Homo sapiens: one gene and its partners. The protein of the gene in region 3 purifies or fractionates together with the protein of the main gene of each other region. This does not show direct contact. Each region holds a gene or a part of one and is shown on either strand. Other genes may lie near its edges. The genes, in order: MYL12B, ARCN1, PAN2, PPP1R12B, MARF1, POM121C and KIF11.

Region 1 (3,414 bases), on a different chromosome or scaffold from region 3:
AAGGGTGGGTTTGATATTTATAAAGATGAGACCTTTTTTGAACATGACTAGTCTTTTTACATATGTTATCTCAATTAGTTCTTTGCATTGAAGTAGATATCATGTTTTACTGATGAAAAATTGAGGCTCAGAGAGGTTATGTTATACTGGTAGTAAAATGGGAATAAGAGTACCTACCATAGGCAACTGTTGTGAGGATTAAATGGGGACAGTCTTTGTCAGAGTAAGAAATCAACTTTGGAGACTTTCTCTTTGAGGAAGCCCTATGCCTTCATAACAGTGCTTGGCCAGAGTAAGTACTCCATAGATGCTAGCTATTGTTAGATATTTTAAATTCTCACTTCATAAAAATTGATCCCCTGAAGTTTAGGACAAGGTACATCAATAATTTCTATTGTGTTTCTTTCTTTTTTAGAGATGGGAGTCTCACTATGTTGCCCAGGCAAGTCTCGAACTCCTAGTCTCAAGTGAGCCTCCCACCTTGGCCTCCCAAAGTGTTGGGATTATAGGCATGAGCCACTGGTGTCTGGCAAATTCTGTTCCTTAATGTTTCAAAACTGCTTTTTTTCCACTCAGTCATTTAATTGTCACATTGAAAATAAAGTTTAGGTGCATACTTATTCCTACCCAATTGAAGTAATAATTCCTTATTGATATTTTTACCTACAGACTTTAGGTATTATGTATTCTGTTTTTGCTTTGTTTTATACATTGTTTTGTTTTACGTTTTTGTGTTTTTTTTTTAATCCAGAATTAAACAACCACCATGTCGAGCAAAAAGGCAAAGACCAAGACCACCAAGAAGCGCCCTCAGCGTGCAACATCCAATGTGTTTGCCATGTTTGACCAGTCACAGATTCAGGAGTTCAAAGAGGCCTTCAACATGATTGATCAGAACAGAGATGGCTTCATCGACAAGGAAGATTTGCATGATATGCTTGCTTCTCTAGGTAGACTTTATATTCTTTATTTGTATTTTCCCTAAAATAATAATTTGTCTCTTTATGAATCTTTTTTTTGTGCGATGTACAAATATTTCTCTCCTTGTCTCAAAAGGCCTCTGGAGAGATTTCTGGGTGTGGGAGGTGCTATTTTGGGGCTTGGCCAGTCATATGGAGATAAGCCTACAAGGTTGGGGACCTGGCAGATGCTGTGCCCGGGTAGGCTAATGTTCCTGTTAGCTAAATTTTTTAGGTCTCTAGATGGAAAGCCAGGGCATGGCTAGGCAGCAAAATACCAGAGTTTCAAACAAGTGTAGCTAAATAATATACTTAATAAAGGTTGAGTACAGGTTATAAACAAGGAGTGACAGTAAGTGATGATGGTTATCTCTGGGAAGGAGGGGCAGTGCGACTGGAAAAGGGAACACAGTGAAGAAGACTTTCACAATATTTTGTATGATTTTTTTAATAACTAAAATGTAAAGATACAGGATTTAAAGCACACATAAACAGCCATTTGTATGTTGGTATATGGGTGTTAATATTCCTTGTATGATTTTGTTATTGTTTCTTAACATGCATCCTACATGTTCTGGCCAGAGTCAGCAGTTAATTTACAGTTGGGAGTCAAGGAACTGCAGGCAAAGGAGACCTTGATAGGCCAAAGCGGAGGGGGTGAGGCAGGCTGGGAGTGGGTCAGGGATGGCCTACAGTGAGACTTTGCGCTCTGTCCTCCTGCTTGGCTGACTGGCCAAAAAGGCAAAGAAAGAGGTGGGGGTTTTTTTTTTCTCTCTTTTAATGCCTACAAAATGATCAGCTAGCTTTTATTCTTCTAACTTTTGATTTTGATTATTTCTCCTAACACATTGAAAGTAAAGTTTAGGTGTGTACTTATTCCTATCCAACATATGATTTTGAAAACTTTTAAGCCTACAAAAAGTGGAAAGAACATTATAGTGAACACCTATACATCTTTAGCTATATTCACTGATTGTTAACATTTTGTAACTTTTCTTTATCTAGGGTGAGAGTAGAATCAAAGATTTTTATCTGATTTGTTGACTTGTAGTTAGATTATAACCTAGTGTTTCTCACATTCAGAATGTCTGAGTATGTTCTTGGGCAAGTCAGTACTGAAGAAGGCCTCTGAGGAAAATTGAGGAATGTAGCCATCTTCCAAAGATTGAACTCTCAAGTCTATACTCTGCTTATAATAGATGCTCAATAGATATTTGTTGAACGAACAAGTCATGGTAGAGTCAGAGGTTGTCTTTGAGACCTTCTGTTTTGCAGAAACCCATCCTTTTAAAGATACGTGTTAAAAGAACAATTTCAGCCTAATTAAATTTAATGGAGTTTAATTGAGCAATGAACAATTTGCGAATCAGGTAACCCCAGAATCACAGCAGATTCACAGAGACTCCAGTGCAGCCACGTGGTAGAAGAAGATTTATAGACAAAAAAAGGGAAATGACGTACAGGAATTGGAAGTGAGGTATGGAATGGCTTGATTGATTACAGCTCGGCATATGCCTTATTTGAACATGGTTTGAACACTCAGCAGTGTATGAATGGTTGAAGTATGGCTGCTGAGATTGGCCAAGGCTTAGCAGTTGTTACAGGCTCATACTCCTAAGTTAGGTTTTCAGTCTTGTCTGACTATTAAGCTAGGTTATAATTCATTCACAAGGACTCAACTGTAGAAGTACGGAGTCTTTCTCAGGCCATATTTAGTTTGCTTTAACATATGTATTTACCTTTTAGGGGAACCTTCATACATTATTGGTAGGAATGTAAATAAGTACAGCCACTGTGAAGGACATTATGGAGGTTCCTCAGAGAACTAAAAATAGGAGCTCTCCCATATGATCCAGCAATCCCACTGCTAGGTATATACCCCCAAAAAAGGAAATCAGTAGTATCATTGAAGAGGTATCTGCACTCCCATGTTTATTCCAGCACTATTCACAGCAGCCATGATTTGAAAACACCGTAAGTGTCCGTCACCAGATGAACGGATTTTAAAAATGTGGTACTTATGTACAATGGAATACTGTTCGACCATAAAAAATGAGATCCTGTCATTGCAGCAACATGGATGGAATGGAAGACATTATGTTAAGTGAAATAAGCCAGGCACAGAAAGACAAACTTCACATGTTCTCACACACTTGTGGGAGCTAAAAGTTAAAATAATTGAACTCATGGAGATGGAAAGTAGAAGGATGGTTATCAGAGACTGGGAAGGGCAGGGAGAAGAGTGGGAACTGTTAATAGATACAAAAGTATAGATAGAATGAATAAGATCTAGTATTGGATAGAATAACAAGGTGACTGCAGTCAGCAGTAATTTGTTGTACATTTTAAAATAACTCAGTATAGTTGGAATGTTGGTAACACAAAGAAATGATAAATGCTTGAAGGGATGGCTATGCCATTTACCTTGATGTGATTATTTTGCATTATATGCCTG
Region 2 (3,500 bases), on a different chromosome or scaffold from region 3:
TTAAAAAAAAAAAAAAAAAAAAAAAAAAAAAAAAGAGAGACGGGGTTTTGCCATGTTGCCCAGGCTACAAATTCCTGGGCTAAAGTGATCCGCACACCTCAGCCTCCCAAAGTGCTGGGATTACAAGTGTGAGCCACAGCATCCGGCCAAGGCAATGGATTTTTGCCTTTGTCAATATTTTGATATTCAAATAATGAATATTGACTCTCCCCCCAAAATTTTACATACAGTTTCAGGGAATGCATCGATCCTCTAGAGAAGTTATTTCAAATGGCCCATAGAAAATCCCCTCATGCGATGAGAAATATTATTAATAAATGGGAGCATATTGTAAATGTAATCCCTGTAGAGCCTCCTATCCCTAAAAGGTTGAGAGTCATAGCTCTAGGAAGTCATGGTCCTCTATGTTAGAATTTTATGAGGTTTTGAAGAAATAAGACAAATCAAATGAACACCTAAAGAAAGGACAGCTCAGACCAAAACTTCAGACCTATATAAACATGCTGCATTTAATAGAAACCCCATATCTAATAATAAACCTGTTAGAAACAATGTTTACAGGCTCAAGGGTAGTTCTTAGGTTTCCAACTGGAGTTAAAAACACCTCTATACCATACAAGTAAAATTTAGGTAAAAACATCAAAAGCAACTTGAGAGGGAAAAAGGAACAAAAAGGTGTATGTTACTATCCACTTTATTTATTTATTTATTTATTTATTTATTTATTTATTTATTTATTTATTTTTTGAGAGAGTGTCTCACTCTGTAGTCCAGGCTGGAGTGCAGTGGTGCCATCTTGGCTCACTGCAAGCTCTGCCTCCTGAGTTCAAGCAATTCTCATGCCTCAGCCTCCTGAGTAACTGGGACTACAGGCACAGGCCAGCACCACCAAGCCTGGCTAATTTTTCTATTTTTAATAGAGACAGGGTTTTGCCATGTTGGGCAGGCTGGTCTCCAACTCCTGGCCTCAAGTCATCTGCGCGCCTTGGCCTCCAAAGTGTTGGGATTACAGGAGTGAGCCACTGCACCTGGCCCATCCACTTTACTGATGAGCATGTTCAAAAACTAATTATAGGTACTGGTAATCTCCATTTTTGCGATATTATAAGAATTAACTGAGTAATTATTTATCGAACATCTACTATACATACAACATGCTTTCTGAGAATTAAGATGACACAGGCTAGCATTCTGCCTACAAGAAGCTTAATAGGGATAAGACACAAACACAAATAACTGTAATATGAGGCAGAATGTGTTAAGTAACATGAGAGAGTAACCGATAAAGTGCGTGGAAATTCAGAGGAAGAGATTACTTCCAGCTGGTACAGTCAGGGATGACTTGATAGAAGAAACAGCATTTAGGCCGGGAGCGGTGGCTCATGCCTTAATCCAGCACTTTGGGAGCCAGGGCAGGCAGATCACCTGAGGTCAGGAGTTCGAGACCAGCCTGGTCAACATGGGAAAACCCTGTCTCTACCAAAAAATACAAAAAATTAGCCAAGTCTGGTGGTGCACGTCTGTAGTCCCAGCTACGGGGAGAGTGAGGTGGGAGGATTGCTTGAACCTGGGAGGCGGAAGTTGCAGTAAGCCAAGATCATACCACTTCACTCCAGCCTGGGCTACAAAGTGAGACTCTGCCTCAAAAAAAAAAAAGAAAGAAAGAAAGAAAGAAACAGAATTTAGATCATGCTTTGATGAATTCCAGGATTTGTTTGTTTTGAAACAGAGTCTTGCTCTATTGCCCAAGCTGTAGTGCAGTGGCGTGATCTTGGCTCAGTGCAGCCTCAACCTTCTGGGCTCAGGTGATTCTCCCACCTCAGCCTCCCAAGTATCTGGGACTACAGGCACAGGCCACCACACCTGGCTAATTTTTTGTATTTTTCTGTAGAGACAGGGTTTTGCCATGTTGCCCAGGCTGGTCTCAAACTCCCAACCTCAAGTGATCTGCCCGCCTGAGCCTCCCAAAGTGCTGGGATTACAGGCATGAGCCGCCACACCTGGCCAGAATTCCAGGCTTTCAGTACGTCAAGATGAAGAAAGAAGTAGGGTAAAATCATATGTCTCTCTTTGAGTCATTCCATTATCCAGATACAAGCAAAACAAGGCTTCCAAAATAGGACCATAGTTCCCCATACTAAGTATAGCATAAATCTCCGAACACCCAGGACACCACAAATTACAGGTTCCAGGCAGTTGACACAGGTCTCTCTGTTACAGCTACTAATATGGCTAGAAGGTATGGTCACCTCTAAACATGATAAATTTATCCTATCCTAAATTAACATTTGTCTTCTTAAAGTTCTTGAAATAATAAACCTCTTTACATTAATGTTTACTGGTTTAACAATTATTAAAATATAGCATATACTAAAAGGTAAGTTAACAATTTTCCCTATTGAAATTTGATCTGATTTTCTCTGAGGAAGAATTAATAAATATGATTACAAAGTTTTTGGTTTTTTTTTTTTTTTTTTTTTTTAACATTTTTGGAAAAAACATTCCAGATCTAAAAGGAACTTGCAAGAGCCCTTGATTGTCTTACAGATGTGAAAACTGAGGGCCCATAAGTTAGATGATCTCTCCAGGACGGTTAAAAAAAAAAAAAATTCCCTCATAAAGTTGAGCTTTGCCAAACAACTTTTAATAATTCTTACATGGTTTGAGTACACTATCTTTGGACTAAATAACAACTCTCTCCTACACAGACTTAACTACATGAATTGTTAAGTGCCTCAAGTAAAAAAACCTGGAGAATTAGGTTTCTGTTCTGCCTTTGCCACTAATTATGTGACCTTGGATAAGTCACTTAATTGATTATTGAAATATCCCTAACATAGGAGGTTAGTTTACATGAAATCCAAAGTGCTCTGTGTCTTTAAAGTTCTGTAAGTCTAAGCATTTGAAAACTACAGTAACAGAAAAAAAAAAAAACAACTACAGTGACAGAAAATGTACAATACTTCCATTTTATACCCACTGCTCCAGTTCTAACCACTTTGGAACAATATTTTATAGTAACATTAGGCTGCCAGAAGGCAAATTGTCTAACCATAACAAATTGTGTGTGCAAGAGAGATACAAGAATAACAGGTGGTATAATAATTCAGGATAAATATGCACAACTCTCTCTCAAAAAAAGTCAAGTTCTTTCTTGAATCTCTAAATGCTTCAGGATCCCTTACTTCCAGAATTATAGTCACCTTCTCCTTTGTAATTCACCGCAATATTTTATACACATATACATGCACACACAATTCATGGTCATATTAAGGCTAGTTTCTATAATTGTCAGGGAGGACTGTTCTGTCTTTTCTATTTATATGAAGCTATTATAGATAAAATCAGAGAGAAGATTACAATAAAATGTAGACCACATACGAAACCTAAAACTTGAAAAGTAATTTACTCAGTGAGGGTTTTAAGTCCATCACATTTCTATTCTAAAACAAAAGCTTGCAGAGAATTAAAACACACACACACACACACACACACACCCG
Region 3 (3,500 bases):
TGGTGAAACCCCCGTCTCTACTGAAAATATAAAAATTAGCTGGGTGTGGTGGCAGGTTCCTATAATCCCAGCTACTTGGGAGGCTGAAGCAGGAGAATTGCTTGAACCTGGGAGGCAGAGGTTGCAGTGAGCTGAGATCACACCACTGCACTCCTGCCTGGGTGACAGGGCAAGACTCCGTCTCAAAAAAAAGAAAAAGAAAAATACAATGAGGCCAGGCACAGTGGCACCTGTAATCCCGGCACTTTGATAAGCCAAGGTGGGAGGGTTGCTTGAGCCTAAGAGTTCAATACCAGTCTGGGCAACATAGCAAGACCCCATCTCTATTAAAAGAAAAATACAGGCCGGGCGCGGTGGCTCACGCCTGTAATCCCAGCACTTTGGGAGGCCGAGGCGGGCGGATCACGAGGTCAGGAGATCGAGACCATCCCGGCTAAAACGGTGAAACCCCGTCTCTACTAAAAATACAAAAAATTAGCCGGGCGTAGTGGCGGGCGCCTGTAGTCCCAGCTACTTGGGAGGCTGAGGCAGGAGAATGGCGTGAACCCGGGAGGCGGAGCTTGCAGTGAGCCGAGATCCCGCCACTGCACTCCAGCCTGGGCGACAGAGCGAGACTCCGTCTCAAAAAAAAAAAAAAAAAAAAAAAAGAAAAATACAGTTGAGTAAGGGGGTTGAGGTAATGAAGGGTGGGAAATGTTGCTATTTTGTTTGGTTTTGTAGTGTTTTGTTTTAATTTTAATCTTTTTTCCTAATGGCTCTTTTAGAAACAATGTTGCTACTTTAAATAGTTGGTCAGGAGTTCTCTCTGATAAAGTAACATTTGAATAGAGACTTGGATGCAGCACCAAAAAGGGGAACAAAGAGGCAGAGCTCCATGCCTCTAACTTATCCTTGTGCCTCTCCTTTACTATTCTAGGCCCTCTAGAAGGGAGGGAAGGAGCCATGTAGATATCTGGGGAAGGAACATTCTAGAGAACTTCATATGCTGTGTTAAAAGAGCTTGGACCTTGGACTTGAACCTTCAGGCCACTGAAGGGCTTTTTTTTTTTTTTTTTTTTAGGTGGAATCTCACTCTGTTGCCCAGGTTGGAGTGAAGTGGTGCCATCTCAGCTCACTGCAACCTCTGCCTCCCAGGTTAAAGTAATCCTCCTGCCTCAGCCTCCTGAGTAGCTGGGACTACAGGTGTGTGCCACCATGCTCAGCTAATTTTTGTATTTTTAGTAGAGATGACGTTTCACCATGTTGGCCAGGCTGGTGTCAAACTCCTGGCCTCAAGTGATCCACCTGCCTTGGCCTCCCAAAGTGCTGGGATTACAGTGTGAGCCACAGCACCCAGCCTCAGATTTGGGAAATATTTAGGAAGCAAAATAGGCCAGGTGCGGTGACTGATGCCTGTAATCCTAGAATTTTGGGAGGCCGAGGCAGGTGGATCACCTGAGGTCAGGAGTTCGAAACCAGCCTGGCCAACATGGTGAAACCCCCTTTCTACTAAAAATACAAAAAATTAGCTAGGTGTGGTGGTGCATGCCTGTAATCCTGGCTACTTGGGAGGCAGGAGAATTGCTTGAACCTGGGAGGCAGAGGTTGCAGTGAGCTGAGATCGTGCCATTGCACTCCAGCCTGGGCAACAAGAGTGAAACTCCATCTCAAAAAATAAATACATAAATAAAAATTTTAAAAAATCCTTGGTTATCTAGTGGTTAGGAAAAAAATACATAGGACTTGACTGTCAGATATATGGCTTGGTCAACTAGGTAGATCTTGGTACCATAGAGAATACAGTAAGAAAAATAGAAATAAAAATGGTGAATTTAATTTAGGATGTCATGAGTTTGAGGTTATGATGGGATGTTTAAGGAGGTTTAGTAGTTACCATCATCTTCTTGGTATCCATGTGGGATTGGTTCCAAGATCTAAAGATACCAGATACCAAAATTCAAGGATGCCTAAATCCGTTATAGAAAATGATATAGTATTTGCATATAACCTTATGCACATCCTCCCAGATGTGAAACATAAGAAAGCCAGCTGGCCAGTAGAGAATTGGACCATGTCCCTGACCTTCTATATACTGTTCTAACCAAGTGAGCCATTACCTATTCAGCAGGGTCATTGTGAGGACAAAATGAGGTAGAGTTTACCAAAATGCTGTGTAACACATTAAACAAACATAAGACAGTATTATCAGTGTCTTTATCACTAAGATTGACTGGTTCCTAGCCTTTTGCCCCAGTTGCTCCTAGTCACAAAGGCCAAGCAAGAAAGGATCCAAGCTGAGCCATGTTCAGTCCCTGACCTGGCCGTAGGGTGGCCCTTGCCCCTCCACTCTAAGTGTCTCTGTTGTCTTTGTCCTCTATAGGGCCATGCCACTTCATTTTTTGGCCCAGCCTTGGAGCGCTACTCATCCTTTCAAGTCAATGGCAGTGATGATATTCGGCAGATCCAGAGCCTGGAGAATGGTATCCTTTTTCTCACCAAGAACAACCTCAAGTATATGGCCCGTGGGGGCCTCATTATATTTGATTACCTGTAAGTGGCTTCTCAGCTCTGGACTAGGAACGAGGATGCCTCATAGGGTGGGAAGGCTAAGGGATTGGCAGCTTGTAAGGCCTGGGCCCCTTAGCCTTTCCTCTCCCCACCAGGCTGGATGAGAATGAGGATATGCACAGTCTCCTACTGACTGACAGCAGCACTCTACTCGTTGGTGGGCTGCAGAATCACATAATAGAGATTGATCTTAACACTGTCCAGGAGACTCAGAAGGTACAAGCTTGGGGCAAGAAAGACCTATGTGGGGTCTGAGGTTGTTGCGGGGGCAGGGTATGCTTGGGCTGGTAATGTGCCTGAGATGTGGGTGTGACCTTTCTGTTCCCTTGGTCTGTGGGAAAAATCATTCTTCTCACTGGTTTTTCCTGCTTCCCTCTCCAGTATGCAGTAGAGACGCCTGGAGTCACCATCATGAGACAGACAAATCGCTTCTTCTTCTGCGGCCACACGTCTGGCAAGGTGGCCAAGTTCCATTTCTCCTCCCACTGCAGGGCCCTGTTTCACTAGATACCTGATTGCGATCTGCTTTCCCTTAACTCTGGGGTGTAGTTGGATTGGAGGTGAGGGATGAGTGGAGTGAATTCACTTCCTACTCAGTGATGTTCTACTATGAGATTATTTTGCAGCTTGATGTTTTCTATGATAATGAAGTCTCCCTGAAGCCCCTTCTGGCTCTGGGCTTCTCTGTTTGCCTTTTCTGTGCTTTAACTTTCCCTGTCCTAAAGCCCTAGTTCCTTTGGTAGGGACCCCACTGGGTTAGGTAGGTGGCAGGTATTTTTCCTGATAACAGAATTTGCAGATAACTGAATTTTTTTTTTCTAGGTTTCCCTGAGAGACCTCCGTACTTTTAAGGTGGAACATGAGTTTGATGCCTTCTCAGGAAGTCTGTCAGACTTTGATGTGCATGGCAACCTGCTAGCTGCCTGTGGCTTCTCCAGCCGCCTCACTGGCCT
Region 4 (3,500 bases), on a different chromosome or scaffold from region 3:
TTTTTTTTTTTTTTTTTGAGACGGAGTCTCGCTCTGTCACCCAGGCTGGAGTGCAGTGGTGCCACCTTGGCTCACTGCAACCTCCACCTCCCGGGTTCAAGTGATTCTCCTGCCTCAGTCTCCCGAGTAGCTGGGACAACAGGCGCGTGCGACCACGCCCGGCTAATTTTTTGTATATTTAGTAGAGACAGGGTTTCACCGTGTTAGCCAGGATGGTCTCAATCTCCTGACCTCGTGATCTGCCTGCCTTGGCCTCCCAAAGTGCTGGGATTACAGGCGTGAGCCACCGCGCCTGGGCAAAGCTTCAGTTTTTCAATTGAATTGCCTCATGAAACAAACATAAACTCTGCATGCCTGATAAAACTTTAAGCCCCCAAATTTTACTCAAACTGGTTACAATCTAAGATCAGAAGAAACAATTTTTTTAAATGACACTTCAAAAGCAGGAAAAACCCCAACATATTCACAGACAAAAACAACATCAACAAATTGGGCAAGCACTCAATTAGCAATCCAAATGAGGCTTCAATTCCTTGTCCTATATGACATTCTGGGCCAAGGTCTTAATCTGGATTTATTATTACTATGTTGAACCATTAAAGATTTATTAGACATCCCAAACCTCCATATTTCACCATCTTAGAGAAGATATATATGTAATTCTCCTCCATAAGCATAAAATAGTCTCAAATACTGATAAATATAGTACTCCCCTGACACTCCTCAAGAGCCAGAATGCTAGAACAGAAATCGGTTATGTAGCCAATTTCCTATTATAAGTTATAATAGTAACCAACTATTCTGGAGACCAATCCCAAAATTCAAGTTAGTTTCTAAATTGTATCTACTGCTAAGTAAAAGTAACAAGCAGCACAGAATCAGATACACAGTAGACACTCAAGAAATAAATGTAAGAGAATGGCAGAAAAAACTGTTTATTGGTACTAACCTCCCTATCACTGTTCCCCCAAGGCTGCCTTCCAGTGGAAGTGCTAATGAGTGGGAAATGGGCCAAACTAGACTGAGAAGTAAAATAAACTAGATAAGCAGCCATCAGTAATAGGGACATAACTTTCTTGCCCCTATTATCAGGTTTAATATCCTAAAATATTCTTAACTGATGAATAATGAAACCACCTGAACTAGCCAGAATTCAGCTTTTAAAGTGTCTTGCCACATATTTTGGGCCCTCATTTAAATTACAATTATATTGATGGAAAATCTATATTTTTTCTCCCAAAAGTCAACAGAAAGACAAGTTATCCTTAATGCAAAAAAAAACTTCATATAACCTCCACAAAAGTCTTCAAAAATATCTCTACTGAAAGTGCTCTTTCAAAGTTTAAATGACCAAATCCAACAGTCTTTTTACAGGCCTTCTCCTCAATTTCCTTTTACATTATTTACCATCCATTCCTTGAAATACCTCAATATCACTGTTTGTCGGTTCTTCTCTGTATTAGTTTCCTATTGCTGCTATAACAAATTACCATAAACTTAGTTGCTTAAAACAACACAAATTTATTATCATAGCATTCTGGAGGTCAGAAGTCTGAATCATGGCCAGATGCAGTGGCTCACAACTGTAATCCCCAGTGGCTCACACCTGTAATCCTTGGGAGGCCAAGGCGGGTGGATCACCTGAAGTCAGGAGTTTGAGACCAGCCTGGCCAACAAGGCAAAACCACGTCTCTACTAAAAATACAAAAATTAGCTGGTTGTGGTGGTGGGCGCCTGTAATCCCAGCTAATAAGGAGGCTGAGGCAGGAGAATCGCTTGATCCCGGGCAGCGGAGGTTGTAGTGAGCCAAGATTGTGCCACTGCACTCCAGCCTAGGGGTCAAGAGCAAAATTCAGTCTCAAAAAAAAAAAAAAAAAGTCTGAAATCAGTCTCATTGGGCTGAGTTGTCAAATTGCTGGCAGGGCTGGTTCCTTATGTGGAGGCTCTGAGAGAAGAATCCACTTCCTTGCCTTTTTCAGCTTCTAGGGTCCACCTGCATTCCTTGGCTCACAGAACCTTCCTGGAATCCCTGCAATCTCTTGCTTCCTTCATCACATCTCCTATTCTGATTCTGCTCTCTTGCCTGTCTTATATGGATGCTTGTGATTATATTGGGCTCACCTGGATAATCCAGGCTAATCTCCTTATCTCAAGATCCTTAAATTAATCATATCCCCAAAGTCTCTTTTACCCTGTAAGGTAACATATTTACATGTTCTGGGGATTAGGACTTAGACATTTTTGGGGCACCATTAGTCAGCCTACCACATCTTCCAACAGCTCTAACTTGAATTTCTGCATTCTCTGCCTACCAGCTGCTTGTGTTTTCTGCTCTTCTCTGTATGTTTTCTCCCTTTCCTCTTTCACACTCATTACTTCAACTCTCACCTTTATGCTAAAATCAAGTCTCTTGTCTCAAATATGAGAAAACTGGAGCATAGATAGGAAAGTGACTAGCCTTGAGTCACATAGATACCTACAGGATATTTACTTACTTACTTACTTATTTATTTGAGACACAGTCTTGCTCTGCTCTGTCACCCAGGCTGGAGTGCAGTGGTGTGAACACAGCTCACTGCAGCTTCAACCTCCTGGGCTCAAGTGATCCTTCCACCTCAGCCTCCTATGTAACTGGGACCACATGTTTGCACCACCATACCTGGCTAATTTTTTTTTGGGTGGGGAGGGGGTTGGAGAGATAGGGTCTCACCACATTGCTCAGGCTGGTCTCAAACTCCTGGTCTCCAGCAATCCTCCCGCCTTGGCCTCCCAAAGTGCTGGGATTACAGATATGGGCCACCATGCTAAACACCTATAGGAGATTTCTATTTGTACGTCTTCAGAGTACCTCAGTCTAATCGTTGACTGAATACTATTTCTACCTGAATAACACAATTCTTTCAGACTCACAAGCTAGAATTGTACTACACTTTTTTCTCATCTCCATTCACTCAGCTGGTTCTCTCAACTCTGTCTCTCCATTCATTCAGAAATCCAAGTGCTGCTTCAGAATCCTAAAATACTGCTTTGGTTGGGTAACGACCCTGCTCAAACCCACAAAAATTCTCTACTAAGGAGTCCATCAAGCCACCTTGGCCTGATGTTTGATGTTCAAAGCCCTCTAGGATGTCACCCTGACTCTCTCTCATCTCTAACCCTTCAAACACATCCATTAGGATTTCCTAGCATCCTCTGCCTACACACCACACCCATTCCTATTTATTCGCCCATGCTGCTCTACCATCCTGGACTGCCTTCGTTTGTCCTTCCACTTAGGAATACATCCTTTCCAGGGTATCATAGAATTTGGAACTCTAAAAGGAATCTTTTTTTTATTTATCTGTTTCCAAACCTGACTGTTAGTTCCTTGAGGGCAGAAATTATACCACATATATACTCTAGTACAGACTTACAATCTACCATTTAGACATTCAATATTAGTTGTTAATTAAGAATCTAAGAAAACCTCTAAAGAGAAAAATATAGTGGAACACGGCCAG
Region 5 (3,500 bases), on a different chromosome or scaffold from region 3:
GAAATTACCAAAAGGAAGTTACTGAGGCATGGTGGCTGCTAAAGATGTAAACAGGCCCTCCCACCCCAGTCTGTTTCAATTCAGGAAGAATGTAGTCTTAATTTTAGTTGTGTGTTCCAGTGTTCATGTCCTGCAGACCTCTCTGAAGAATGTTCCTGGTTTTAACTAGCTGTGATTCCATTTTGTTCAGTTATGATTTAGTGATGTAACAGAATTGAACACTATTTCTGTTTGTGCATGCAGTAAGATATGAGTAACCAAAAAACCACGGACCTCATAAAATTAATTTATGTTCTGATTTTCTTTTCTCAGAAAGAGTACATGGAGAACAAGAAAGTTGCTGTGGAACTAAAGGATGTACCATCACCCCTTCATGCTGGCTCTAAGCTTTTTCCAGCAGTCCCACTTCCTGATATTCGTTCTCTTCAGCAGCCTAAAATACAGCTTTCTTCTGTCCCCAAAGTAAGCTGCTGTGCTCATTGCCCTAATGAACCCTCCACTTCGCCAATGCGTTTTGGTGGTGGTGGTGGCGGTAGCGGAGGTACCAGTAGCTTGATTCACCCGGGCGCACTGTTAGACTCGCAAAGCACCAGGACAATCACGTGTCAGGTAGGGTCAGGGTTTGCTTTCCAGTCTGCATCTTCACTCCAGAATGCCTCAGCTAGGAACAATTTGGCAGGCATTGCAAGTGACTTTCCCAGCATGTGTCTAGAGAGTAACCTGTCTTCCTGCAAACACCTGCCCTGTTGTGGAAAACTCCACTTCCAGTCATGTCATGGTAATGTGCACAAGCTGCATCAGTTTCCGAGTCTGCAGGGCTGCACCTCCGCTGGCTATTTCCCCTGTTCTGATTTCACAAGCGGGGCTCCAGGGCATTTGGAAGAGCACATTTCACAGTCGGAGCTAACGCCTCACTTGTGCACCAACTCTTTGCACCTTAATGTGGTACCTCCGGTTTGTTTAAAGGGCTCACTTTACTGCGAAGACTGTCTAAACAAGGTTCGTATCTTTTTATTTCTTAAGTTGGGTGCAGCTGAGGATTGAGGAATGACTTTTGAAGTGGATTTATCTTGAAAAGTATTATACATGGGGTTGAAGATTCTCCCATGGTATAGGGGAATCTCCCCATCAGCATAATTTTTGCTGGTTCTGAAAGAAACAAAGGGTAAGATGGGAGATCATTCAAAAAAGTAGAGAGTCATTATTTTTGTAGTTTATACTTTTAGAGCCTCTTGTTGCAAACAAGAGGTTGGCAAAGCCTTCGTGTTCTATGTTTAAAGGCTAAAGCACGATGGATTTTTTATAACTTACATTCAGCTTACACATGGGCCCATTCATGTAAGGTAGATAACTGCATGTTGTCTTTTTGCAATAATGTGGGAAACCTGAAGCTTGGCCTCAGTCACATTGGTGTTCAAGTGAGACTTTGCTACCCTTTATGTAAAATATGTGTGAGGTCTTCGTTGCAGCAGACTCATGCCCCAGAATGTAAAGATCTGACCACGTGAATATCTTTCTTGATCATGTCAAGTCACTTCTGGAAATGAATTTATGAACTGATAGCTAATGGTTCTTGGAAAGATTATTTGAAAGTCCTTTTTATTAGAGGCTAGCAAGTGGAAAGGTAAAACACTTAGAGTGTATTTTCAGTTGTTGTATATAACTCCAGCTTCTGAAATGATGTATCTGACACCTCCTCCTTTTTAAAAAAAATTTAAAACAGCCAGCAAGAAATAGCATAATCGATGCGGCTAAAGTCTGGCCAAATATACCACCTCCAAATACTCAACCTGCACCTCTTGCTGTCCCTCTGTGTAATGGCTGTGGAACCAAAGGAACAGGGAAGGAGACCACGTTGTTATTGGCGACCAGTCTAGGCAAAGCTGCTTCAAAATTTGGTAAATGACAGTATGGCATAAAATGTGCATATTTAAATAGCTTTCAATATCTCATACTAACATTGCATTTAATCACCTTTGAAGGATTCCTTATGGTTCTAAAGCTACTGTGTATGTGAGTCTCCAATTCCATATCTTGGTAGAAATCTTTTTATTATTATGGACCAGGAAGTCATTTGCCCTTTATGTTGGGCCGAGGCTATACACAGAAGCTGTGTATAGAAAAATTGGTAGTATATCAGGAGAAATAAAAGTGCTGGAAAAGACTTGGTGTCACCTTAGGTTGGAAATCACACTTGTTGATGGTATACTCCCTAGAAGTGCTTAGAACAATTTACTAATGGCTGATTAAAAACAGTATTTGAAAACCAAAGAGTTCTCAGTTAAAATAATTTCCCTAAAAAGTAGTTAATGCGACGTTTTGAAAACATTTTTAAAATATTAAATCAGATGTTAATGCAGCGTTAACTCAAAATCAACGACAGTAACAGCTTCACCCTTTGTCAGCTCCTCAGTGTTGGTTACTACCAAGTAGGTAGATAAGTGTGGGCTAAGCTTGAAAGTCGGGTCCTGGAGCTGCAGTATCCGGTCAGTTAGTGTGCTTGTGTTCAGAGAAGCATCACTGCTTAATGTCAGAGTGGCTCATGCTTGGAGGTGGATTTATTGTGGGCTTAAAGTTACTTGACTTTTAGATTTGTCTTCTCCTGAAAAACAGAAATAATCTCTTAGAGTGATACTTTTTGACAGCTTGATTGCTTATTAGGTCAACCAGTGAGGTTGGTAGCCTTAAAACTTGGCATTCATTAATAATTTAGTTTTTCTACCACTGAGAATGATAGGTAGTTTATTATCTTATTGTAACTTGCCATTTATTTTCCACTACAAGTAATTGAAAATGTTAACATTTCTTAAGGGTCACCAGAAGTTGCAGTAGCTGGACAGGTGCTAGAAAACTTACCCCCCATTGGAGTTTTTTGGGATATTGAAAACTGCTCCGTTCCCTCTGGCCGGTCAGCAACTGCTGTTGTGCAAAGAATCCGTGAGAAGTTTTTTAAAGGCCACAGAGAAGCAGAATTCATCTGTGTATGTGACATCAGTAAAGAAAACAAGGAAGTTATTCAAGAGCTGAATAATTGCCAGGTAAAAAAAAAAAATTTAATAATTTTAATCTACAGTAGAGGAATAAGCAGATATTTGTTTGTTTGTTTGTTTTGAGACAGAGTCTAAGTGTCACCCAGGCTGGAGTGCAGTGACGCATTCATGGCTCCCTGCAGCCTCGAACCCTGGGACCCCAGTGATCCTCCCACCTCAGCCTCCCAACTAGCCAGGATCACAGATGCACGCCATCATGCTCGGCTCATTTTTTATTTTTTGTAGAGACGAGGTCTCCCTATGTTCCAACCAGAAACAGAAACTAAGAACCCATGACTGTATTCTGTCCCTTGGACACCCCTGGATGGCTTTCAGGATCCAGGGTTAGGTGGTGGAGGCTTGTCTCAAACTCCTGGGATCAAGCAGTCCTCTTGCCTTGGCCTCTAAAAGTGCTGTACGTGTGTGTGTGTGTGTGTGTGTGTGTGTGTGGTGTTTTTTTTTTTTTTAGAA
Region 6 (3,500 bases), on a different chromosome or scaffold from region 3:
ATTCTAGTAAAACCGTTTGTTTTTCACTTTTTGCCGTTAACGAAAAAGTAGCTTTACTTGCTAAGGGGAACTGTTGTGAGTGTATAAATTATACTTTGGCCTGTTGGTTAGCTTCTGATTTCCGTTTCTGATGTGGCATGGGAATTAAAATATCTTACGGCTAGAATCTTGTCTTTCATTATAGACCAGAGCAGATAATCAGCTCAACACTGTCGTCACCATCAAGTAATGCCCCAGACCCATGTGCAAAGGAGACTGTACTGAGTGCCCTCAAAGAGAAGAAGAAGAAAAGGACAGTGGAGGAAGAAGACCAAATATTCCTTGATGGCCAGGAAAATAAAAGAAGGTAACAGGCTCAGGAGAGTACTAAGCCAGTTTCCCGCTTGGACCCCTATGGGATGAGATGTAGACATTCCCGTAAAGATACAGAGGCCACGTCCAGTTTGTGAGCCTTCATAGGCCTCCTTCTTTGGCTTTCATGAGAGAACCTAATAACAAGGGTTTTAATGCTGTTCATTTCAAGGCACAGGTTAGATCGATGTCATAATTTACCTTTTCTGTGAGTAGCAGAGATAAGCTGACAGCTATTAGCCATGTTAGCCTCATGCTTCTGTAGAAACGTGTTAAAAGTTTATTTTCAAGAAAGAAGGCTCTAAGTCTTCCGGTCGGAATTTTGTGGTGTTCAGTTATTTGGGTAACCACCAGTTCTAGTGTCTTTTTTTTTTTTTTTTTGAGTTGGAGTCTGTCTCTGTCCCCCAGGCTGGAGTGCAGTGGCCCGATCTCAGCTCACTGCAAGCTCAGCCTCCCAGGTTCATGCCATTCTCCTGCCTCAGCCCCCCGAGTAGCTGGGACTACAGGCGCCCGCCACCATGCCCAGCTAATTTTTTTGTATTTTTAGTAGAGACAGGGTCTCACCATATTGGCCAGGATGGTCTCAAACTCCTGACCTCGTGATCCGCCCACCTTGGCCTCCCAAAGTGCTGGGATTACAGGCTTGAGCCATGGCGCCCGGCCCACCAGTTCTAGTGTCTTAATTGTGCTGAAGGAAATGCTTGGGAAAGAAAAATGAAAACTAGAGTTTGGTAGTTTTATCAATAATGAGATTAAAACCAATTTCCTGGCAGGGCAAGGTGGCTCACGCCTATAATCCCAGCACCTTGAGAGGCCGAGGCGGGTGGATCACCTGAGGTCAGGAGTTCGAGACCAGCCTGGCCAACATGGTGAAACCCCGTCTCTACTAAAAATACAAAAATTAGCTGGATGTGGTGGTGGGTGCCTGTAGTCCCAGCTACTCCAGAGGCTGAGACAGGAGAACTGCTTGAACCCAGGAGGCGGAGGTTGCAGCGAGCCGAGACCATGCCAGTGCACTCTAGCCTGGGTGACAGAGCGAGACTGTCTCAAAAAAAAAAAAAAAAATTCCTTATGTGGTTTGTAAAATAACCTAATGAAAATGGAATAGTTTTCTAATTACAGAAAGAAAAGAAGTTGAAGTGGGTGAGCATTTACTGAGCACCCACTGTGTATGAGACCCTACTGCAAGTACTGTGGATAGAGCAGTGGACAAGACAAAATCTCTGCTCTCATGGGACTCTTGAGGGAAACACCATTTTATAAGGCTGGGTATGGTGGTGCATGCCTGTACTCCTAACACTTTGACAGGCCAAGGTGGGAGGATCGCTGGAACCCAGGAGCTCAAGACCAGCCTGGGCAACATAGGGAGCCCTCGCCTGTACAAAAAATTAAGAAATTAGCCAGGTGTGGTGGTGCATACTTGTAGTCCCAGCTGCGCTGGAGGCTGAGGCAGGAGAATTGGTTGAACCCGGGAGGCAGAGGTTTGTTGCAGTGAGCCAAGATTGTGCTATTGCACTCCAGCCTGGGCAACAAGAGTGAAACTCTGTCTGAAAAAAAAAAATTTACCTTTCAGAAACTTAGGGATTTTAAACAACCATTTTCTGGTCTAGCATGGAATCTGTGCTCCATAGAGATAGTATAAGGTCCCAGAAATGTGAGAATACACTTTAAAGGGACAAACAAAGTCATGTCATTTCATTTGAGACTTTTTTGATTTGTCGCAGGCGCCATGATAGCAGTGGCAGTGGACATTCAGCATTTGAGCCCCTGGTGGCCAGTGGAGTCCCCGCTTCTTTTGTGCCTAAGTAAGTGCGAGTCCATCCAGATGAAATACCAACTGTTTGGAAAAAGGCCTGATCAGAGCTGTTGCCCTATAGATTTTCCTCTTTGTTTTTTGCATTGCTTAATTAGTTCAGGTTCATGTCTTTGAAATTAGGAATATTCTGAGTAACTTGTCACAATTAACTGCCTTCTGTCTAATTCCTTTTAATGTTCTTGCATTAATATGGATGAAATATGCTGAGACTAGAGGTTTTATAAATATATTTAATAACCAAGCACATACACAGAAGGATTGCAAAGTTTGTGCAGCGGATAAGACAGTATGAAACTTAAATGTTTAATTTCTACATGTCAGTTTAAAAACAAATTGGAGGAAGAATTGGGTGGAAAGGAAAGTGGCTCAAAAGTCTGTGTGGAAAGACTTAGGATAACTTAGATACCTCATCTGAGTCAGCAGTGTGATGTGGCCACCAGGAAAGCTAAAGTGCTCCTGGTCTGTGCTGTTAGAAGAAAGACTAGAATGAGGCAGGTATTCCTGCCTTCCGTAGTTCTGCTCACTGTCCGTGGAGCACTGTGGTCAGATCAGCGTACTGCACTGCGAGGGAGGATGTACACAAACGGAAATTCATTCCCAGTGAAGCAACGAAGATGTTAAGGAGATTTGCAACAGCCCAGAGGGGTGGTGGTGGATGATGGGGTTTTGGAGGTATGGAAGTATTAACCCAGAGGAGAAAAATCTCAGGAGGAATAAAGAAATAAGTGAGGGAAGGACAATGGTCTCCAAAAAACCAAAGGACTGTCCCTTGAAAGAAGCGAAATAACTTGCTCTGTTTGACTTCAAATAGGATCCGTGGGTGAAAGTTAGAGGAAATACATTGTAATCCACTGTGAGAATAAACTGGTTCATGGTTGACGTGGGTCACTCTAGGAGAGCGTTGTCTATATTGTAACAGGTTGGATGACTGTCCTACAGGAAAGATGCATAGGAGATTTCTGTTTCCATTGGAGGTTTAGAAAAATGATGGGTTCCTCTTAACTCTGATTTTTTTTTAACAGCTTTGTTGAGGTATAATTGACATAACTGTACTTGTTTAAAGCATGTGACATTTTGACACGCATACACCTGTGGAACCATCCCACCACTAAGATAATGAACATCCATGACCTCCAAAAGTTCCCACATGCCTGTAATCCCTCTCTTTAGTTCCACCCGTGTCCCCAGGCATCCACTGATCTGTCTTCTGTCACTGTAGATAGGTATGCATTTTCCAGAATATTCTATAAATCATACATTTAAGTTTTAAATATTTGGCTTTTCTTACTGACTTTGTCAGATAGATTTGGCCAGATTGTTAGCAGTAAAAATT
Region 7 (3,500 bases), on a different chromosome or scaffold from region 3:
CAAAAAAAAACTGTTAGAACTAATAAGTGAATTCAGCAAAGTAGCTGGATAGAAAGTCAACAAGCAAAATCCAGCGACGTTTCTTTTTTCTTTTTTTTTTTTTTTGAGACAGAGTCTCACTCTGTTGCCCAGGCTGGAGTACAGTGGCACGATCTTGGCTCACCACAACCTCCACCTTCCAGGTTCAAGCGATTCTCCTGCCTCAGCCTCCTAAGTAGCTGGGACTACAGGCACGCGCCACGATGCATGGCTAATTTTTGTATTTTTAGTAGAGACAGGGTTTCACTATGTTGGCCAGGCTGGCCTTGAACTCCTGATCTCGTGATCAGGAGTTGGGAGGCCCACCTTGCCTCCCAAAGTGCTGGGATAACAGGTGAGAGCCACTGCGTCCAGCCTCCAGTTACATTTTTATACACTAAGAATGAACAATCTAAAAAGGAAATTACAAAAACAACTCAATTTAAAATAGCACCAAAAAGAATAAAATATTAGTAATTAATTTAACCAAGGAGGTGAAAGACTTATAAAATGAAAACTATAAAACACTGCTGAGGCCAGGCGCAGTGGCTCACGCCTATAATCCCAGCACTTTGGGAGGCCAAGGTGGGTGGATCACCTGAGGTCAAGAGTTCGTGACCAGCCTGACCAACATGGTGAAACTTTGTCTCTAGTAAAAATACAAAAATTAGCTGGTCGTGGTGCCACATACCTGTAATCCCAGCTACTCAGGAGGCTGAGGCAGGAGAATCACTTGAACTCGGGAGGTGGAGGTTGCAATGAGCTAAGATTGTGCCACTGCACTCCAGCCTGGACAACAAGAGCGAAACTCCATCTCAAAACAAAAACAAACAAAAAAAAACTGCTGGCAGAAATTAAGGGGCATAAATAAATGGAAACACATCCCTTGTTCATGAACTGAAAGACTTAATATTGTTAAGATGCCAATACTACCCAAAGTGATCTATAGATTCAATGTAATCCCTATTAAAATCCCAATGACGTGTTTTACAAAAATAGAAAAATTCATCCTCAAATTCATATGGAATCCCAAGGGAGTCCAGATAGCCAAAACAATCTTGAAAAAGAACAAAGCTGGAGGACTCACACTTCCTGATTTCAAAACTTACTACAAAGCTGCAATAATCAAAACCATGTGGTACTGACATAAAGACAGACTTATAGACCAATGGAACATAACAGCACTTAGAAATAAGCCCTCTTACATATGAGCAAATGATTTTTAATAAGGTTGCCAAGACCATTCAATCAGAAAAAGACAAGCTTTTCACCAAATGGTGCTGGGAAACTAAATATCCATATGCAAAAGAATGAGGTTGGACCCTTATCTAACACAATATACAAATATTAACTCAAAATGGATCAAAAATGTATGTAAGACCTAAAGCTATAAAACTCTTAGAAGAAAACATAAGGCAAAAGCTTCACAACAATGGATTTGGCAATGATTTCTTGGATATAACACCAAAGATACAGGGAACAAAAACAAAAAGACAAACTGGACTTCATAAAAATTTAAAATGTTTGTGTATCAAAAGACAGCATCCCTGTGATCCCAGCTACCTGGAAGGCTGAGGTAGGAGGACTATTTGAGTCCAGGAGTTCACAACAAGTCTGGGCAATAAAGCAAGATACTATATTTAAAGGGGAGAAAAAAAAAATAGCCCAGGCACGGGCTCACGCCTGTAATCCCAGTACTTTGGGAGGCCAGGGTGGACGGATCACCTGAGATCAGGAGATCAAGACCAGCCTGACCAACATGGTGAAACCCCATCTCTACTAAAAATACAAAATTAGCCAGGCGTGGTGGCGCATGCCTGTAATCCCAGCTACTCTAGAGGCTGAGGCAGGAAAATGGCTTGAACCCAGGAGGCGGAGGTTGCAGTAAGCCAAGATCGTACCAATGCACTCCAGCCTAGGCAACGAGAGCAAAATTCCGTCTCAAAAAACAAACAAACAAACAAACAAACAAACCCAAGGGAAAAAAAAAGACTTTATCTTCCTTTTCTCCATCATAGTGCAAGATCAAGGTAAAAAAAAGAGAACTCTGGCCAGATGAGGGCTCACACTCATAATCCCAGCACTTTGGGAGGCCAAAATGGGTGGATCACTTGAGGCCAGTAGTTCAAGACCAGCCTGGCCAACAAGGCGAAACCCCATCTCTACTAAAAATACAAAAAATTAGCCAGGCATGGTGGTGCACACCTGTAATCCCAGATACTTGGGAGGCTGAAGCATAAGAATTGCTTGAACCTGACAGGCAGAGGTTACAGTGAGCCGAGACTGTGCCACTGCACTCCAGCCTGGGTGACAGAACGATTTTCTGTCTCAACATCTGTATGGAGGAGACTGGAGATGACTGACCCCAGCAGCCAAGGTGTTGGAGCAGCTCATAGGCCAGACCCCTGTGTTCTCCAAAGTCAAATACATTGTCAGATCCTTTGGCATCAGGAGAAGTGAAGATTGCCACCCACTGCACAAAGGGCCAAAGCAGAAGAAACCCTGAAGAAAGGTCTAAAGATGCAGGAGTGTGAATCAAGAAAGAACAACTTCTCAGATACTGGAAACTTTGGTTTGGAGATCCAGGAACACACAGATTTGGGTATCAAATGTGACCCATGCATTGGTATCTACAGCCTGGACTTCTGTATGGTGCTGGGTAGGCCTGGTTTCAGCACTGCAGACACATAGCACAGAACAGGCTGCACTGGGGCCAAACACAGAATCAACAAAGAGGCCATGCACTGGTTCCAAAAAGAAAAAGAAAGGAAAAGACCACACGGTATCAATGAGTAAAAAGGCAAACCACAGTAATGGGGAAAAAATTTTTGCCGTTTATGTATCTGAAAATATCCAAAATATATAGAAAATTCCTAAAACTCAACAACAAAAAAGCAAACCAATTTAAAAATGGGCAAAGGACTTAAACAGACATTTCTCCAAAGATACACAAAATGGCCAGTAAACACATGAAAAGATGCTCAACATCATTAATCATTAGGGAAATACAAATCAAAACTACAATGAGATAGCACCTCACACCCAATGGATGGCTACTTGAAAAAAAAAAAAGAAACAGAAAATAAACGTTGGTGAGGATGTGGAGAAATTGGAACCCTTATGCACTGTTGGTAGGAATGTAAAATGGTCCAGCCACTGTGGAAAATAGTTTGTCGGTTCCTCAAAAACTTTAAAATAGAATTATCATATGATCCAGCAATTACAATTCTGGGTAAATACCCAAAAGAATTGAAAACCCATATTCATAGCAACATTATTCATAATAGCTAAAAGTAAGAAGTAACTCAAGGCCGGGCTCCGTAGCTCACGCCTGTAATCCCGGCTCTTAGGGAGGCCAAGGCGGGCAGATCACAAGGTCAGGAGATGGAGACCATCCTGGCTAATATGGTGAAACCCCGTCTCTACTAAAAATACAAAAAATTAGCCGGGAGAGATGGCAGGCGCCTGTAGTCCCAGCTCCT

Evidence for each region.
Region 1: the proteins of PAN2 (region 3) and MYL12B purify together in Homo sapiens (affinity purification with mass spectrometry, with the first as the bait; one large-scale study listed by BioGRID). This does not show direct contact.
Region 2: the proteins of PAN2 (region 3) and ARCN1 purify together in Homo sapiens (affinity purification with mass spectrometry; one large-scale study listed by BioGRID and IntAct). This does not show direct contact.
Region 4: the proteins of PAN2 (region 3) and PPP1R12B purify together in Homo sapiens (affinity purification with mass spectrometry, with the first as the bait; one large-scale study listed by BioGRID). This does not show direct contact.
Region 5: the proteins of PAN2 (region 3) and MARF1 purify together in Homo sapiens (affinity purification with mass spectrometry, with the first as the bait; one large-scale study listed by BioGRID). This does not show direct contact.
Region 6: the proteins of PAN2 (region 3) and POM121C purify together in Homo sapiens (affinity purification with mass spectrometry, with the first as the bait; one large-scale study listed by BioGRID). This does not show direct contact.
Region 7: the proteins of PAN2 (region 3) and KIF11 purify together in Homo sapiens (affinity purification with mass spectrometry, with the first as the bait; one large-scale study listed by BioGRID). This does not show direct contact.

The regions. Positions count from the first base shown.
Region 1 is NC_000018.10:3,272,133-3,275,546, forward strand, and holds part of MYL12B (myosin regulatory light chain 12B), read left to right. Parts: intron 1-751; 5' UTR 752-766; coding exon 767-950; intron 951-3,414. UniProt on the Homo sapiens protein: Myosin regulatory subunit that plays an important role in regulation of both smooth muscle and nonmuscle cell contractile activity via its phosphorylation. Phosphorylation triggers actin polymerization in vascular smooth muscle.
Region 2 is NC_000011.10:118,575,409-118,578,908, reverse strand, and holds part of ARCN1 (coatomer subunit delta), read right to left. Parts: exon of another isoform or gene 2,011-3,500; intron 1-2,010. UniProt on the Homo sapiens protein: Component of the coatomer, a cytosolic protein complex that binds to dilysine motifs and reversibly associates with Golgi non-clathrin-coated vesicles, which further mediate biosynthetic protein transport from the ER, via the Golgi up to the trans Golgi network.
Region 3 is NC_000012.12:56,327,501-56,331,000, reverse strand, and holds part of PAN2 (PAN2-PAN3 deadenylation complex catalytic subunit PAN2), read left to right. Parts: intron 1-2,359; coding exon 2,360-2,529; intron 2,530-2,642; coding exon 2,643-2,763; intron 2,764-2,928; coding exon 2,929-3,006; intron 3,007-3,369; coding exon 3,370-3,500. UniProt on the Homo sapiens protein: Catalytic subunit of the poly(A)-nuclease (PAN) deadenylation complex, one of two cytoplasmic mRNA deadenylases involved in general and miRNA-mediated mRNA turnover.
Region 4 is NC_000001.11:202,355,199-202,358,698, reverse strand, and holds part of PPP1R12B (protein phosphatase 1 regulatory subunit 12B), read right to left. Parts: intron 1-3,500. UniProt on the Homo sapiens protein: Regulates myosin phosphatase activity. Augments Ca(2+) sensitivity of the contractile apparatus.
Region 5 is NC_000016.10:15,633,155-15,636,654, reverse strand, and holds part of MARF1 (meiosis regulator and mRNA stability factor 1), read left to right. Parts: intron 1-312; coding exon 313-999; exon of another isoform or gene 1,000-1,149; intron 1,150-1,723; coding exon 1,724-1,898; intron 1,899-2,395; exon of another isoform or gene 2,396-2,645; intron 2,646-2,811; coding exon 2,812-3,038; intron 3,039-3,500.
Region 6 is NC_000007.14:75,437,800-75,441,299, reverse strand, and holds part of POM121C (nuclear envelope pore membrane protein POM 121C), read left to right. Parts: intron 1-184; coding exon 185-346; intron 347-2,075; coding exon 2,076-2,156; intron 2,157-3,500. UniProt on the Homo sapiens protein: Essential component of the nuclear pore complex (NPC). The repeat-containing domain may be involved in anchoring components of the pore complex to the pore membrane. When overexpressed in cells induces the formation of cytoplasmic annulate lamellae (AL).
Region 7 is NC_000010.11:92,596,130-92,599,629, reverse strand, and holds part of KIF11 (kinesin-like protein KIF11), read right to left. Parts: intron 2,772-3,500; exon of another isoform or gene 2,341-2,771; intron 1-2,340. UniProt on the Homo sapiens protein: Motor protein required for establishing a bipolar spindle and thus contributing to chromosome congression during mitosis. Required in non-mitotic cells for transport of secretory proteins from the Golgi complex to the cell surface.